Linked DNA regions of Homo sapiens: region 1 is linked to region 2. Evidence: fine-mapped expression QTL. Tissue or cell type: whole blood. Region 2 holds a variant in brackets; the other region holds the start of a gene. All regions are shown on one strand. Distances are between the middles of the regions.

Region 1 (8,100 bases), 140 kb before region 2:
CCTCTCAGCAGGTGCCTTTACCCTCTGGTCAGGAGAGAGGAAACGCCCCACAAAAACAGCAGGTAGGAATCCTTCGCGTTCAGAAGATGAGAAGAACCAAGGTGCCGTCGGGGCTAGTGCGGGCTGCGCCTTCTCTCCGAGGCCTGTCGCTCGTCTTCCTGCCACCAGGTGGCGCCAAAGGCGTTTCGTCTCTGCCCGCCAGGCCGCCGGGCTCCAGGACTGCGCTGCTGGAGTCTCTGCCGGAGCCCTTGGTGCTGGGGTCCTGGGGTCCCTTCTTAGCCCCCTTAGCACGTCGCATCTGGGCCCAGAGGAAAATCCACTTTTACACACACCCTCCACCCTGGCCCCAGGAAATGTCAAGGCCTTTGAAGTGAGGCTGGGAGCTACATAACCAACTGGGGAAAAAAATTAAAAGGTGGTTTTATGTTATTTGTAATGCGTTGGCAGAAGTTTTGTTTTTTCTCCCCCATTTCTTGAGGAAAGGCATTAAACTCGTCCTTGAACGGAAATCACAGAAGGAAACCATAAGGCATTTTAAACAAGAATAAAAGAAGGGCATCTGCTTAGGTGTCTGGAAGAGGGTGGGCGAGGCAAGAGAGAAAAACACCACGGTGTGAATATAGCCAAGTATTCCATTTATTAACAAAATAAGTCTTACCAAGGGAGAGCTCTGTTCGTCCCAAACAGGCCCCGCAGCCCCCGCGCTGCCGCATCAGACCAGAAGGAGGGAGGAGTGGGGAGAAGACCCCAGTCGCTGGGGGGTCCACTCTGGGGGCTCTGCCGGGCCAGGCCTAGGAGAGGGCGGGGGCTGCTGTGATCCGAGAGCTCCCTGACGCCCCAACCTTCCCCGAACGCAGCTAACGAGCTCGTGACATCCGCTGACATCGCCACCGGTCTGCTTTGGAGGGATCTAGCGAGAGTCACCTACCCCACCCCTACTGCCAGGGGAGGGGTCGTTGCCCCCACGAGGGAGAGAAAAACAAGGACTATAATGCACTTCGCAAAATGTAAGGGGCCGGCTTCACGCCAGCGGGGCCTTCTGGGACTTTGAATTCAACCAGGTGAGCGCTCCAGGTGCCCCGACAGGCGCACTGTAGCCACTGGGTGTTAGGGGCGGGAGTCTGGAAGGTGACGGTAGACGGCCACTTGGGCCCTTCTGGGGGCGAGCCTACTGGTGGGGTCAGGGCTCTCCGTGCTCAGAGCAAGGTAGAGGAGCAAGGCCCTACTTTTGGGGGGCAGGGTCCAGACCAAGGACCCTATGCGCGGAGGGTGGCGGGGGAGGAGTCCCGGAGCAGTGTACCAGGTCAATAGAGCTCCAGGGCCCCTGCCACCCAGGTGGCCCCCTCCACCCCCAAAATGAGTTACAAAAAAAACCTCCTCTCTGTTACTTGTACAACAAAGGAAAAAACAAAACAAAACAAAACAAAAAACAAAAACAGAACCGCAAATGGAAGGAAACAAGAGGGAATGAAGGGGGAAGAGGGAAAAAGAGAAGGCGGAAACGTAGTTTTAAGTTAAGACTCATGCAAGAAACTCCCCAGGAAGGGAAAACAAAACGTCTAGAAGAACCCAAAGACCCCAACTCTCCCTCAAACCAAACCAATCAAAACCAAAAAAAGAGGAAAAGGAATAAAAAATGTAAAACTTATATCTAAGAAAAAATAACAGAAAGGAACAGGGGCGGGGATCATGTCGTTATTTGTGGGATTAATATTATTATTTGGGAGAACACAGACTTTTTGCATACCATTGACTCATGTGGGCCGTTAATGCACTTATATTCCCAGCTTGTAAGCTAACATTATAGTAAATAAATACACAGTCCGGTGGGGAAGGGCTGGGTGGGGAATCCCGGCAGGGTCAAGCAGTAGTGGAGGTTGCAGCGGCGACGGCAGGTGGGGAGGGAGGAGGAGGGAGAGGGAGGAGGGTGAGGGGGCTGGGGTGGAGGAAGAGCTGTAGTTACTGGTATCCCAGCGCCGAGGCTGAAGCTAGTCTCTGTCCATACAGCGCGTATGGCGAATAGTAGGGTCCGGCTGTGGGGAGGGACGGCACGGCCAGGCCCCCCGCTGTGGATAAGTGGCTCTTGCCATAGGGGTGGTACCGGCTTAGGCCCAAAGTGTGTGGATTCCGCAAGGACAGCGACCCGGGGCTGCCGGGGGCGGCGGGCGGGGGGAGGTGCAGATGGCAGGAGGCGGCGGCGGCGGCGGCGGCGGCGGCGCTGCCCAGGCCCGAGGCCCCGGGGTAGGCGGCCAGAAGTTTCTCGGCTCCCGGCAGGGCCGTGTGGGTCCGTAGGTGGCTGAGCAGCTCCTCCGAGGTGGCGAAGCGCTTGTCGCACGGCCCACTGGCTGCCACCCAGTTGCAGCTGTGCGGCAGCGGTTCGTTCTGCAGCATGAAGCCGTAGGTGTAGAGCGGGTGGCCGGGGAGCGCGGCCTGGGCGGCGCTGGACGAGAGCGCGGCGGGCTGCAGCGGGTGCCCGGGGTACACCAGCGGGTAGCCCCCCGCCTTCAGGCTGGGCCCGGCAGGGTCGTGCGCGCTGCAGGTGGAGCAGCTGGAGCCGCCGAGGTGCGAGGCGCCGTGGTAACCTCCCAAGCAATAGGGGTCGCGGCATAATCCCTGCAGGAAGGAGGGCGGGGAGGCCCCGGTGAGCGGGCTGGAGCTGGGGGGCTTGCCCGGCGGCAGGCCCAGGCCCCCAGACAGCTGGCCTCCCACGAGGCCGGACTTGCTAGGATCCAGGCCAGGCACGAACTGAGACGGGTAGCCGGCGTAGGCGCCCACGATGGAGCCGTGGTAGCCAATGCTGGAGGGCGGCAGCGGGAACACCGAGTGGCCCGGCTTGTAGGGAGACACCGGCGCCACGTGGCCGGCCCCCACCAGCGCCGAGGGCGGCTCGGACTTGCGCCCGGAGGCCCCGGACTCGGCGCCACCGTGCGCCCCGGGCTCCCCACCGCCGCCGCGGCTCACGGCTGCCGGCTCCGGGCTGGGCTTGGGCTCCTGGTCTTTCTTGTCCAGCTCCCCGCCGCCAACCCCGCCGCCGTTCTTGCAGTCAGAGTGGTGCGGGGAGCCGCCGCGGGAGCCGCCGGGCGACGACGAGGACGAGGATGCGGAGACCGGCGCTCCATGCGGGGGAAAGGGCGGGCAGGCGGCGCTGGGGACCCTGAAGCCCGCCTTGTCTCCCGGGGACGAGGAGGACGAGGAGGAGGTGGAAGACACCGAGGAGGAGCCGCTGTCTTTGCGGGAGTCGCCGCCGCCGGAGCCCTTGGAGTAGGGCTTGAAGCTGGACTTGTCCTCGGCCGGTGAGTCCCCCAGCTGCTTCAGGGCCGCGGCTGCGGAGGCGGCGCCCGGGGCTGAGCGGCCGGGGTCCTTCTCCGCTCCCAGCCCGTTGGCCGCCGCCGCCACCGAGTTGAGTTTGGAGGAGGGCGGCGGGTCCGGCTTGCCGATCTGCGAGCAGGTCTGAGCCAGCAGCGCCAAGGGGCTCTTCTTGGCGTCCAGCTGTGGGAGACAGAAGCAGGGGGAGGGAGAAGGAGTGAGACTCAGAGGCCTGCGGGGCGAGCGGGGGCGCCCGGGGAGCTGGGCGGCGGCGCCACGGGGCGGGGCGGGCCTGGGGAGAGGGTCTGCGAGCGAGGGCCGGGCCGGGCGCGGCAGCTGGCGGAACTGCGCCCACACTGCCGCTGGGTCCCGGGGTGCGCCGCAGGCCCTGCGGAAGGAGTTCACCCAGGACCCCTGCGGGAGAAGGTGACGTCTCTGGAGTCGGGGCTGTGACTCGCCACTTCCCTCTAATGTCCCCCTCCTCCAGGCCCAGGAAAAAACTTATTCCTTTAGTTTGGGGGAACTTCGCTTGGGACGGGTTTCTGGCGATGGCGCCGCGGGGTAGGAGAGGGGAGCGCGGATTCTAAAGGAGGGGCTGCAGTTGGCGCTCTCTCCGTAGCCCCTCCCTCCCGGGGAGGGCACCCAGGGAAGAGGCAGGAAGAAAGATCCGGGATCGGGAGCGCCAGGGCGCCGTGCGCCCTCACCGGATGGGACAGAGGCGAAGTGGGACCCGGGCAGCCAGGGCTTCAAAGAAAACAGCCCGGCGTGGGGGGCGGGGAAGACCCAGCAGAGACCAACTCCTGGCTGGAAACTGGGGATCAGAGGAAAAGTAAAGGACCCAGAGGGGACTCCAGGAGCAAATCCAATCCGAGAGAAAACACGGAGCTCCGAAGGGCGAGCGTGGAAGGAGACCCTTCCACGGGGAAGCCTGGGGAAGCCCTGGTGGGCTCTGATCCCTCGGTTTTCTTCCCCTCCTCACTCAGCCCGCCAGCGTGACCAGACTTGGGTGTCGCACCGAGCCCCGGGGCGCTGGGAGCTGGGTCAGGGTCCCGGTCGCGGTGGGAGGAATGGGGCCGGCGCCCGGGGGCAGCGGCCGGGGACTGACCTCAATGGGGCTGACGGGAGTGGAGGACAGCGGCTGCAGGTACTCCGGGTGCAGGAGGTGACCGGTGTGAGCGCTCAGCATCTTCAGGACCCTGATCGGGAGCCGGTTCGCCTGGCGCAGGGGGTCCGCCGGTGGCAAGAGGGACACCGCTGCCGGCACCGCCGGCCTCTTCCCGCCGCCGCCGCTGCCGCTGCCGCTGCTTTCGGGTGTCCTTGGGTTAGATCCAGCGGGCGAATCGCTCATTTGGAGGAGGCAGCGCCGCTGGGGGGGCGGGGAGGGCGGGGGAGCACCGGGGAGGCGAGCTCCCGGGGCGGGTGGGCTCGCTCCGCAGCGTCGATCGCGGTGCAGCGGGAGCTGCGCCTCCTCGCCGCCTCCCCTCCTCCACCGACGCCTCCGCCGCCGCCGCCACCGCCGCTGGCCCCGGCTAGCAACACAAAAACCTTCGCCTTCCTCGAGCCGCACGTCAAATAGCCGCGATCGGCAGCCACACTTCAAAGGGATCGCCGCGCCCGCCCAATCGCAGCTCTCGCCGGGACCCCGGGGCGGGGAGAGCGGCGGGCTGAGGCCGGCTCCATCGGTGGGCGGGGAGAGCCTTAAAGGGGCCGCGCCGCGCGCCGCCGCTGCCTCGGTCTCGGCCGCTCCCGGGATTCCTCCCCTCCCCCCGACTGGGCCTTCCTCGCCCTGGGGTCCCCCGCCTGGGACGGGACTTCTCCGGGACCCTGAGCTCTGCGCCCCGTCCTCCTTTCCGGCCGCTCTCTCTCCTCTCTCCCTTCTCACCACTGGGTGGGTGGGGGGTGATGCTGGCGGGGGCTGTAACCCCGCCCGCCGTGTGTGTCCGAGGTGGGGTGGGGTGGGGTGGGGTGGGGTGGGAGGGATCGCACGGCGCGGGCTCTGGGACGCTGGAGTTCAAGCCTCTCCCAGAGGCCGCCTGGGGGCAGGCCTCGCCTCGGGAGCCCGGGTCCTTCTCCAGAGCTGCTCCGGCTCTCCTCGGCCCCGCTCTCCTTCCCCTACTTGGCCTCCCCTTGGTGTGTTCACTTGGAAGCGCCCGAGCCTCGGAGGCACCCACTGTTCTCGGGACGCGGCGTAGGCAGCTCCAACTACTTTGAGCCCGTCTTGTCTGAAGCCTGCAAGTTTGTCTCCCTTCTGGAGTGACATGGTCGGCGACCAAGCGCGGGACCCCAGGCTGTGCGCGCTGTGCCTGCGCCCTGCGTTAGAGGCTCGGTGTCTGGTGTGTTACAGGCTTCTTACCGTGTCCTGCTGAGGGGCGTGAAGTTCCTCACTGTACCGCGCCCAGCTGCTACGAGGAGAGACCGAGATCACGGGCGAGGCGGGTGTCCCTGGAGGGGGATCTCTCTCTAAGCGCTGCTCGGCAACACAACCCCTCCGCCCCCCCATCCTTCTCACTCCGGGGGAAAAAGCACTTGCTTTCCCCAGGCAAATTTCGGGATAAAAACTTTTAATTAAAAATAACAATACCCTTCCCGACTCCCTGCGCCTTTCTGATACAGTGTGCATTGCTAGCTTCGCCCTGGGCAGAGATTTTACGTAGTCATAGTCCTGACATCCAAGTTCCGGATCCGCCGCTTTTCCGGAGGCGAAGTTGGTCCTTTGGGTGCCGAACTCTGGGGAGCCCACTTCTCCGTGCGCTCGGCGGCCAGTGGAGGCGCGCTGGTGTCACTGCCTGGCTCCCAGCACCACTTTTCCAGTCCCGATCCATCACTCCGGTTGTCAGGGCTGTCACTCGGGGCGTATTGCTCTAGGATGGCAGGTTCCCGACTCTGCCGCGCTGACCGACGCCTTGAGATGACCTGAGAACCCAAGATGGGGAGAGGTGATTTCAAAGGAGCTCTTCAAACAGAAAGAAATAGCTATCACGAATCTGTATCTTGCCCAGTAGTAGAAGACAGCAGACCCCACTTCCAGGCAGTATCAGTCATACCCAAAACTAAGTGCACTCCCTGGATCCATACTGTATTTTGGGCAGCACTTATAGAATGCTTAGAAATTACACAAGCTGTAATTACATGTTCCCCAATTTTAATCTTGGTAAAATCATGTTACGCCGAATGGAAAGGGGTACCCTGACTGTGAGATGGATCCCACATTGCAGCAAGAGGGGTGCGGGAATGAAAAGGGAGGGAGTGATCTCATTTATTTCATCGTGGCAGGCTTCTCATGCCGACTTCTGTGCGGGCAGCCATTGCCATCACTGCAAACACCACCTGTAAAAGTCCACTGCAGGGCTGTGTCCACCCACAAGCCATTTTGCCTTCGGGAGACTGCTGTGTAGAGCGGGAAGGGCAGAAGGAAGCCAGGGTGCAGAGAGGCTGGCCTTTGCAGGAACGCAGAGGAGGAGGAGCTGGGCAGAGGGGAGACCTAGGAGGCTATGAAAGATGAAAGTCTCCCTGATTATTGTAACCAGCCCAGCTGTGAGAGGGAGCCAAGGGATCCTTCTAGGGCCTGAGCAGATGTGTGTTAGAAATGATTAATGGGAAATAAGTCAGGAGGAAAAGGGGAGGGGAGAGGGAAGAGGTATTTAGGAATTTGGAAAACAGAGCAGGAGGCAGCTGAAAGGAGAGAGGGGAGAAGAGAGAGGACAATAGAATATTCACTCTCTGTTTGGAGAGGAAAAGAGAAGGAAAAAGGTAGTGAATGAAGGAAAGGAAGGGAGAGAAGAGGAGGTAAGGACAGACTGGCAGGATGTGATGGGGGATTTGCCTAGGTAATACTATACTGTCCTGTTAAAAACACCTCACTCCCTGAGCTCCCAGTGGTAATTACTGACGGGCACACAGATTGGCCTGCTCCCACCTCCTGGGAAGTGGTAGGACACACCTCTGAAAGCATGCAAGGCGGGAGGGACACACTTTGAGCTGCTGGTCAGGGCAGCAGGGTTTCTTTGGCTGGATCCATCCAAACGTCTTAGGAGGGAAAATGAAAAACCATGCATAGCCAGGCCAGAGGCCTAATTAAAACACTGCTAGATGATTATTACAATTGGGATTCACCATTCACTTAGCTAAAATGCTAACCTATACAGAGCACTAAATGGGGCCCTCGGGGCCTGAAGGCAAGTGTAGTTTTCAGAGGAATGGCTTGTCACCTGGGAGGGAATGTGGCTCTGTATTCAGATGGGCTGTGTTTATGGAGGGCGATGTGGTTGGAAGGCCCGAGTAAGACATCCCTGTTCAGGACATATGACACAGGTTCTCCCTCTGCAAAAAAGTGGCAGATGCGTGGCTCAGGGGCCTTCCACTGTCCAGGTCCTCCTCAGATGGCCCTGGGAATGAGCGGCCACCATTAAAATGGGACAGGGGAGAGGGCTGCCTGAGAGTGCCCCCATGACACTGTGGTGAAGAATGACAGTTCGGTATGTCAGGCGCTTAATAAACATCAGGTGTTGCTATCATTCTCAGTTCAAGCTGAAGAGAGTCAGGCCCAGAACCAGGCTGCTGTGGGGACCCCGGGCAAGTGAACCTCCCTAAGCTTTGGTTTCCTCCAGGGTAAAATGGAAGCGTGGCCACTTCAGAGTTGGGAGACCAGAAGCAGACAATGCATGTCACCTGTTTCATGCTTGGCACAAAGAAAGTTGAAGGTAAATGATGGCTGTAACCGATTGCATCATTTGTGTCTGAGGAGCAATTGCTCAGGGGAGCAGCCACATCAGCACCAGATTTAGCCCTGGGAAC
Region 2 (8,100 bases):
GGGTCAGAGTTCACAGGCATGGTTGCCTCATTCTCCAAGTGGGCTGGAAATCTCGCAGACAGATGGGTTAGGGTCTCCTGTGACCGGACCTTCCCCAGAGGTGAAGGGCTCACAGGAAATGCTATTTCTGCTCTCCTGAATCAGGCCCAGTGACTTGGAGGCCTCAGGAGGGGCCGATGGAAGTTGTTTTTTCCCAAATGCTCACATTTCTCCTGGGTATGTATCTTGGGTGTGTTTGTGTTTGGCCCCATTAAGATCAACCACTGGACCATTTGGGAGAGAATCTCTACCTCCTGCCCCTGCCTGACTTGTACTTTTTACTCTCCAAATACTAGATTGCTTGAGGCTTCCTGTTCCCCTGTGCTCTGTCCTGGTTCCTGCCTATTTCCTCTGCAGTAGCCCCGCCCATCTTCTCAGCTTAGATAACTCCTGCTCACCTTTCTGCATTGCCTCCTCCAGGAAGCCTTCTTGGAATGGCTCTGTTCTCCTGTGGCATTCAACAGTTCATTCAGTAAACTAGTATTATTTACTATGTACCTGGCCCTGTTCTATTTGGAATGTATCCGTGCATAAAACACACCAAAATCCTTCCCTCAGGGCACTTACATCCTAGAGTGTAATAACAGCTTTATATGTATTAACAAACAATCTGTAGAACATCCCTACAAAGGAGGCCAATTATTTTATAATTATTTTTTGAGACAAGGTCTCACTCTGTCACCCAGGCTGGAGTGCAGAGGTACAGTCATGGCTCACTGCAGCCTCGACCTCCTGGGCTCAAGGGATCCTCCCACCTCAGCCTCCCAGGTAGCTGGGACTACAGCTGTGCCCCACCACATACAGCTAACAGGTCAGTTATTATCCACATTTCCCATAGGAGGTTACACAGCTGATAAGGGTCATGTTAAATTAACTTAAATCAAATTAAATTAGTCAATGGAATTATTTAATTTAATTTAATGTAATCCTGACAACAGCCTGATGAGATAGATGTTATTTTCCTCATTTTACAGATGAGGAACCCAAGACTGAGAGGGGTTAGGTAACTGATCCCCGGTCACCTAGTCAAGAAGGAGCAGCACCATGGGGATGACTCTAAGCTGGTACAGGCCCCTATGGCCCCCATAAGAATGTCACTCTGTGTTGCCAAAGCATTTTCTGTCTCTAAAGATCTGCTTATCTTCTCCATTATCCTGGGAGTGCCTCCAAGGCAGTGATCTTGATTTATTTATCTGTATCCTTTGAACTCCCATTGTGTTGGGCGCTTAACTGGCGTCTGACAAATACTTGTCTGTGGATTGATGGACAGCTGAATTTCGGCAAAGATGAGAATAAAGCAGCTAATATTTATTGCACGTACTCTGTGCTGGGCTGTGCTTTGGTCCTGGCTAGACATGACCTCTTTTAGTCCTTACAATAGATGAATTAGCCGTCGAGAGGCTGGCTGGTAGTGTGGGCTAAAGATGGGGTTTGAATCACAGGTTTCTCACTCCAAAAATCCATATCCTATGGATGTTTCTGTGCCACAGGAAGCCAATCAATGGAAAGGTGGCCACTCTGGAAGGCATCCGACCCTAAGTCTCTTGGGCTTTGCTGTTTTGGTCCCCATCCGGCCAGACAGGAGTGGAGGGGGTAGGCCCTTCATGCTGGGAGTGGCATTTACAATAGAGTGAAAGCCATCTGGGGAAGTTGGGGGTTGGGTCTCAAGATTATCCCCACCCGTTCAGATGTGGGAAGGAGTTAAAGGGCGGCGATTGGGCACATTAAATTTTTACTGATTGTTGCTGAATCGGTAACAGTCTGTTCCAGGGAAACAGCTGGATTCAGACTGAACTGGCAGACACTGCACGTGTTCTACAGAGAAGAAAGAGGATGATGGTAAAGCAGACTGCAGTCTTCAGGCCTGGAGCAGAGAAGGGAGAGTTCCTGCTCTAGGTATGTTTAGTGCCTTTGTTCTGGCATCTGTTTTTTTCCCCGCCTTTTTCAATTAGGAAGGAAGAACAAAGTAGAGTCTTCTGACTCATCTACCCATGGGGCTTAGGAGACTGAGGGCCACCGTGTGTGTGTTGCGGGAGGCGGGGGAATGCGTGACAGGGACCTATGGTTGTAAGGCACAGCAGAGCACCGGAGCCCATGTCCTGGGCCTCCCAGGCTGTCACCCTGTCATTGGGGCACATTGACTTCTGGTGCCCTCCAGCCTCCCGCAACAGACAGCCACGTCAAGTCCCCCTACGCCCCTTTGGTTAATCCCCTATTTTGCTTGACTAAGAGTCAAAAGGCAAGAGGACGGCACCCAAATGAACTAAGCTCACTTAAATCACTGGCAGGGTAATTTGATAGATGAGTTGGCCAGCACCCACTTCGGGAATTAAGCAAAGCCTGCGCCATGGAGACAGTGGGAAATAACCTTGAGTGACTGTGGTGAAAAGGCGGCCTCATTTCACCCGGGGGGACAGCCCCAGCCCCAGCTCCGCAACTCAGATTGGAAGACAGTGTGCAGTGTCTGCTGGGATGACGGGTGACATTTCTCTCCCAGTGGTCTCTCCCTCCAAAGCAGGACAAAGGTCTCAGCAGTGGGGCCTTGGGCAGAACCAACAGCCCCCTCGGTTGCTGCTTAGACTCACCTGGGGTTAGGGTAGCTAACTGCTGAGGAGGGGGCAACTGGAACCCTGCCTCAGGGTTCCCTCCCACCAGCCCACCCAGGTAAGGGCTCCAGCAGATGCTCTTGTTTGTTGAGCTCACTCATCTGTTGATGGAACACAGAGGAAACAAGGGTCTTTCAACAGACCGGAGTCATGTTATAAAATGGGTGTTTTATGGGCCACATGCAGAAACTGACCACTTGCAGAAGGCCACCTTACTCTGCAGAGGGGCCAGTTGTGAGGGAGAAACTTCTAGGTCCTTTCATCGAGATGAGGATTGTTAGCTCTGACTTCAGATAAGCAGAATAAACAAGCCTCAGCCCAAGTGGGAACTGGTTCTGCCCCCTTTCTTTGCTTTTCTAAGCCATCAAAGCCAAGTTCCTAAAGCCGGACTGTCTCACGGTGCTTTCTGATGGTTTCATTGTTTTGTTTATTGTGCTTATGGCAAGTGCTAACAGACCGCTTTCAAAGTGTGTTGATATTTCGGTTGTTTTTGAATGGCCCTTCTGTTTTTCTGCATCTGGACAGCATTAGAGTCTAGCCCCAGGGAAGAACTGGGTTCCTATAAAAGTGTACCAGGTCCTCTTCTGCAGCAAACGCTGGCCATGACAAGATCAGACACCCCATTTGGGCAGGAACACACACCAAAAATTAGAGCGGAATCATGAGGCCACCTTCAGCAGCCAGGGAAGACAGGCCTGGGCTGGGAAGGGCCCACTGAGTGTTGCCAAGTGAACTGTGGGTGTTCTCTTTCGGTCCATGGACATGCTGTGGTCTTCCCGCAAGAAGAACTCTACCAAGCCGAGGGTAGGGTGATGCCATGAGATGTTCGTTGTCCATAGCTTCATAGATTACCCCCTCCCCCAACCTCTCTGTCTTTTTTTTTTCTTTTTTTTTTTTTTCTAGAGGTCTCACTCTGTCGCCCAGCAACGTAGCTCACTGTAGCCTCAGACTGCTGGGCTCAAACAGTCCTCCTGCTTCAGCCTCCTGAGTAGCTGGGGCTACAGGCACGTGCCACCACGCCCAGTTAATTTATTTATTTATTCTCTTTAGTTTTAATAGAGATGAGGTCTCACTCTGTTGCCCAGGCTGGTCTTGAACTCCTGGGCTCAAGTGATCCTCCCACCTGGGCCTCTCAAAGTGCTGGGATTATAGGCGTGAGCCATTGTGCCCAGCCTCTCTCTCTGTCTTCTAAATTTCTGGTTACCTGGTCAACCACTAGCATAGTTTTCAAATAAGAGGTTCTTGAGGATTGGACAAGGAGCAAGAGCTGGAAAAGGGAGAATGGCCTAGTGTCCAGGAGAAGACTGGAAGAGGCAGCGCAGCCCCAGGGCCCCCACACTGCAGCTCCTGACCTGCTCCAGGCAGAAGCTCTTTTGGGGGATCTTTTGCAACATTGCCCAAAGGGCTGGACCTGGGAAAGGGCATGGTGTGATTGTCCCCCTAAGACACTGTCTTTGGTTTTCAAGGGCTTCCCTTTCTATGTCTGCTCCAGCTCCACCCAACCCTCACCAGCCCCACGGTGTGCTGCATCAGAACATTTTGGGCTAATGCAAAACCAGGCTCCAACCAGCTCCCTCTGGTGGGAGAGAATCTGGGGGTATGATCTCACTTAACTTTGTAAGATTAGCACAAACTCGAATCTATTTCCTTATCTTTCCTTCTTTCTTTTTTCTTTTTTTTTTTTTTAACCCAGGCTAAAGTGCAGTGGTGCAATCACAGCTTATTGCAGCCTCAAACTCCTGGGCTCAAATGATCCTCTTG[C/T]GTCAACTTCCTGAGTAGCTGGGACTGCAGGCACGTGTCACCATGCCTGGCTAATTTTTAAATTTTTTTGTAGAGATAGGGTCTTGCTATGTTGTCAGGGCTGGTCTAATCCATTTCTTCAAGGCCTTCCCTGTTTTCCCCGTTCCAGATTGCCTGAGGTTTTCTTTAGCCCACGAACCTGATCAGCTTGTAAACAGTCCTCTCTGGTTTGGTATCAGGAGTTGCAGGGCCCTCTTCTGCCTGATGTCCAGACAGCTCTGTGGCTCGGTATGACAAGATCCTGACTGAGCAGTTCCCATGAGCTCCTGCTAAGTCACATAGGATGGAGAATGAAAGGCGGCAAGCGAGCTTTGGTGCTTCCATGCTGCAGTTCAAGGAAGTCCAGGGAGCTGGGGGAAGAAAAAAGCTAGCTCTGTCAGTTGGTTCTAAAAAGAACGATGGAGGCTCTTAGACCTGCAATCAGCGTGTTCATGTCTCTAAACACATTGGGGCAGGGGAAGGGCTGCAAGGGTTGGCTGTGATTGGTGATGACTGGTCTCTACTCAATAGGTCTCAAAGTTCTTGTCTTCTTTATAGCTACACACCCTAGCCTTTTTTCCTAGGTGCGTATTATCTTGTTAAGGATTCTCCTTTAAGCTGTCTGTCCTTCTTGAGGTTTTAGCATCCTTAGAATTGGATATATCCTTGTGTTTACTTTCGCCCATTTGAGACACTGGATAAAGCCCTAAACAGCGCCATTTTGTTTTTGTGTTTTTGTGTTTTTGTTCCATTGGCTCTTGGTTCCAGCAAGGAGACAATGTGAGACGCTTGGTCCAGGGCCAGGCACATCCTGACAGGCTAGGCTGATTGACCTCTGAGAAGCTGAGCACACCCTCCACTGAGGCAGGAATATTCTATGAGAAGGACTTTCCTGTTTTCCGATTCCTTGAATAGGCAAGTTAGAGAATGGTGGTCTTCTGTCTCCCACGCCGTGTGTGTGTGTGTGTGTGTGTGTGTGAACACTTGTCATTTTGAAAAATTGTAAACTTTATTTAGCAGTTTCTTTCTCACTGGGGTTTCTCCTTGTGTGAAACTTTAATTTTATAGCTTTGGCTGTTAATTCATCATGGGCACCACCATCAATAAATATTTATTGAGCTTTCACTGGGCACGGCATGTTGAAGTAAGAACTATGTATTTGACTCAAGAGGAGTTCATAGTGGATGGGGTTAGATTTTGGGAGGGGGCAGAAAAAACCTCTTTGAGGTCTCTTGCAACCCTGGGATTTTATGGCTTTGTAACCAAGGTGATAGGGTCAGTTTGACACATATCAGGCAGTCAGCTCGACATACATCAGGCAATCAGCTCGAACAAGAGAATGGGGCTTTGAGAGGTACATGGGCCATCACAAAGATAGTCGCCTTTAGAAAACCCACCCAGAACTGGCAGTGAGACTGCCATCAGCAGTGCTAGCAGATGTCCACTCTGGGACCCAGGGCTGCAAAGGGATAAAGTGGATCTTCTTGGTTTTCCTTATAGTGCCCTGTGGAAGTAAGTACTTGCTGATTGAGTGATGGTTTGCCCTTTGATTCTGGAATTTAAAAGGAACATAGGGCTGGGTGTGATGGCTCGCACCTGTAATCCCAGAGCTTTGGGAGACTCAGGCAGGAGGATCACTTGAGGCCAGGATTTTGAGACCAGCCTGGGCAACATAGCAAGACCACAGCTCTACAAAAATGAAAAAAATTAACAGGCATGGTGGCATGTGCTTGTAGTCCCAGCTACTTGGAAGGCTGAGACAGGAGGATCGCTTGAGCCCAGGAGCTGGAGACTGCAGCGAGCTATGATTGTGCCAACGCACTCCAGCCTGGGCGACAGAGAGACCCTATCACTAAGTGAACTACAATAAAGTAGAATAAAATAAAATAAGGTAAAAGAAGTCTAGAGCTTGGGAAAGTTTGGAGCCTGTTAATGCTTTGGTAGGAGAGGACGGAGTGTCTTTTTTATAGACTTCTCAGTGGCAGTCTAGTGGGTGCCCCTGAGCACTATGGGCTAGGAGAGGGCTATAGGAGGGGAGCTGTGTGAGTCTCTTGGATCCCTAATCAGAGCAGAAGCAGCTAGCCTGCCGCAGCAGTGACGCGGGCCTCCTAGAGGGTTTTCTTCAACATTATGAAGATGAACAGGGCTCTGAGAATTCCCTTTGGACCTGAGCTCCATGCTAATTGCCTCCATATTTATGGGATGATGGGAGGACCACAGTGGCAGCCTCTGAAGTAGAGTCTGGGGATGATTCAGCAAAGCGGCCCTGGCTCTGGTGATTGTTGGGCACCGGTAGATCTGAGCCTCCAGGGGCCCAGAGGCTCAGCTCCCTGTTGCCAGGCAGGCACGGTGCTATTATTATTGTTATTATTATTATTATTCTCTTTTTCTAAAAGAGAAGCTGAAACAGAAATCCAGAAGGGTGAAGTGCCCAGGTAATACTATGGGAACCACAGAGTCAAGGTAAACAGGAGCAGGAGAGTCTGTATCTCCTGCCTTCCAGCTCATGGTTCCTCCACTGCCAAGGGGAAGGGGCAGGGAATTGAGTAGTGCTGATCCTGTCTTTTTCATAAAAGATGATGTTCGGTGTCTCACAAGCAGCTGCTTTTCCCCTGAGGTTAAACTGGTGGTATTAGGGCTGAAGGAGGCTGATAGAGAAGCAAGGAACTAGGGAATACTGCCTGGTTCCATATCTATCCCTAGTTGGACTGTGGGCTAGCTACCTCGCCTTGCCGAGCCTCGGTTTCCCTATCTGTAAAGTGAGGATAACAGGGTTAACTATTTCATGGGAATGTTATGGGCAGTGGATGAAATGAAATATACAAGGAGATTCAGATCATGCTTGGAACAGAAGTTAGGGACTAATAAATAGGTGCTGAGATAGGGAGGCAGTCTGGTGGTGAAGCGTGCACACTCAGAGCCTGGCTGCCTGAGCCCAGAGAGTTCAAGTGACTTGCCAGGTCACGCAGCTAGTGAGGGGCGGAGTTGTGGTGAGTTCCTAGTGCAGCAGTCTTTCCAGATCTTTCCATGCTGGATCCTTTGATCAGGGGACTTGGGGTGGGGCTCTCCAGGCACCAGTGCTAGTCATAGGAGGGGCCCATCTTGGGGACTGGGGTGTCCTCTTAGGATAACTGTCAGTTGGTAAGGGGCACAGCATTGGAGAGATGGCAGGGGCTCCTGGGGAGATGGCTCTGGGGTGAGCCTGAGCCTCGACTTTGTCTACCACAATGCAGTGGCTGAAGTCTCCTCCGGGCGGAGCGGAAGCCACATGGGCTGGGCAGGGTGGGAACACCCTCTGTGCTCTGGGATCTCGGCATGGCTTTCCATCAAGCCTCTGTTGGTGCCTCGTTCCCCCATAAAGCCATTATGCACTGGGAGAATTAATCATGCCGTTAGGTAAGCATTATGGCACTTTTATGGCAGCTTTGAAGCTAATCTGTCACTAATGCCTGCTGGATTATCATGATTTCTTGCAGTTGTGATTCATTAACTCGAGGCCTAATGGTAATTCTATTAAACATCTTCCATCACTGTTTGCCCCAACATGTCCCCACTCTCTGTTCTATTGTGCTGTTGCCGTGGCGTGACTGACAACCTGTGTGGTCTCCAAAATTGGAGCCCCAGCGAGATGAACAGATTCCCCAGCCAGCCAGCAACTGCCCAGCCATGTGTCTAC

What was found. PIP is the estimated chance that this variant, and not a neighbour inherited with it, causes the effect.
Region 1: ZNF703 starts here. The variant in region 2 is fine-mapped to the expression of ZNF703 in whole blood (TOPMed, PIP above 0.99).

What each region holds. Positions count from the first base shown.
Region 1 is chr8:37,692,534-37,700,633 of GRCh38, reverse strand. It overlaps ZNF703 (zinc finger protein 703), which reads right to left and starts at 4,852. Exons shown (of 2, transcript NM_025069.3): 1 at 4,412-4,852; 2 at 615-3,489. The coding sequence starts at 4,654. The coding sequence ends at 1,960. It overlaps LOC124901932 (a long non-coding RNA gene), which reads right to left and starts at 6,704. Exons shown (of 2, transcript XR_007060887.1): 1 at 6,634-6,704; 2 at 5,851-6,219. It overlaps LOC124901933 (a long non-coding RNA gene), which reads left to right and starts at 4,953. Exons shown (of 2, transcript XR_007060888.1): 1 at 4,953-5,194; 2 at 5,651-5,889. RefSeq lists enhancers at 976-1,487, 3,921-4,463, 4,464-5,007 and silencers at 4,742-4,841, 4,892-5,241, 6,029-6,213.
Region 2 is chr8:37,547,857-37,555,956 of GRCh38, reverse strand. All of the region lies in intron 1 of LINC01605 (long intergenic non-protein coding RNA 1605), which reads left to right. Among named protein-coding and RNA genes, the nearest start is that of LINC01605, 48 kb to the left of the region's middle. RefSeq lists enhancers at 1-155, 7,139-7,638, 7,639-8,100. The variant C/T (reference allele first, on the strand shown) is at 4,407.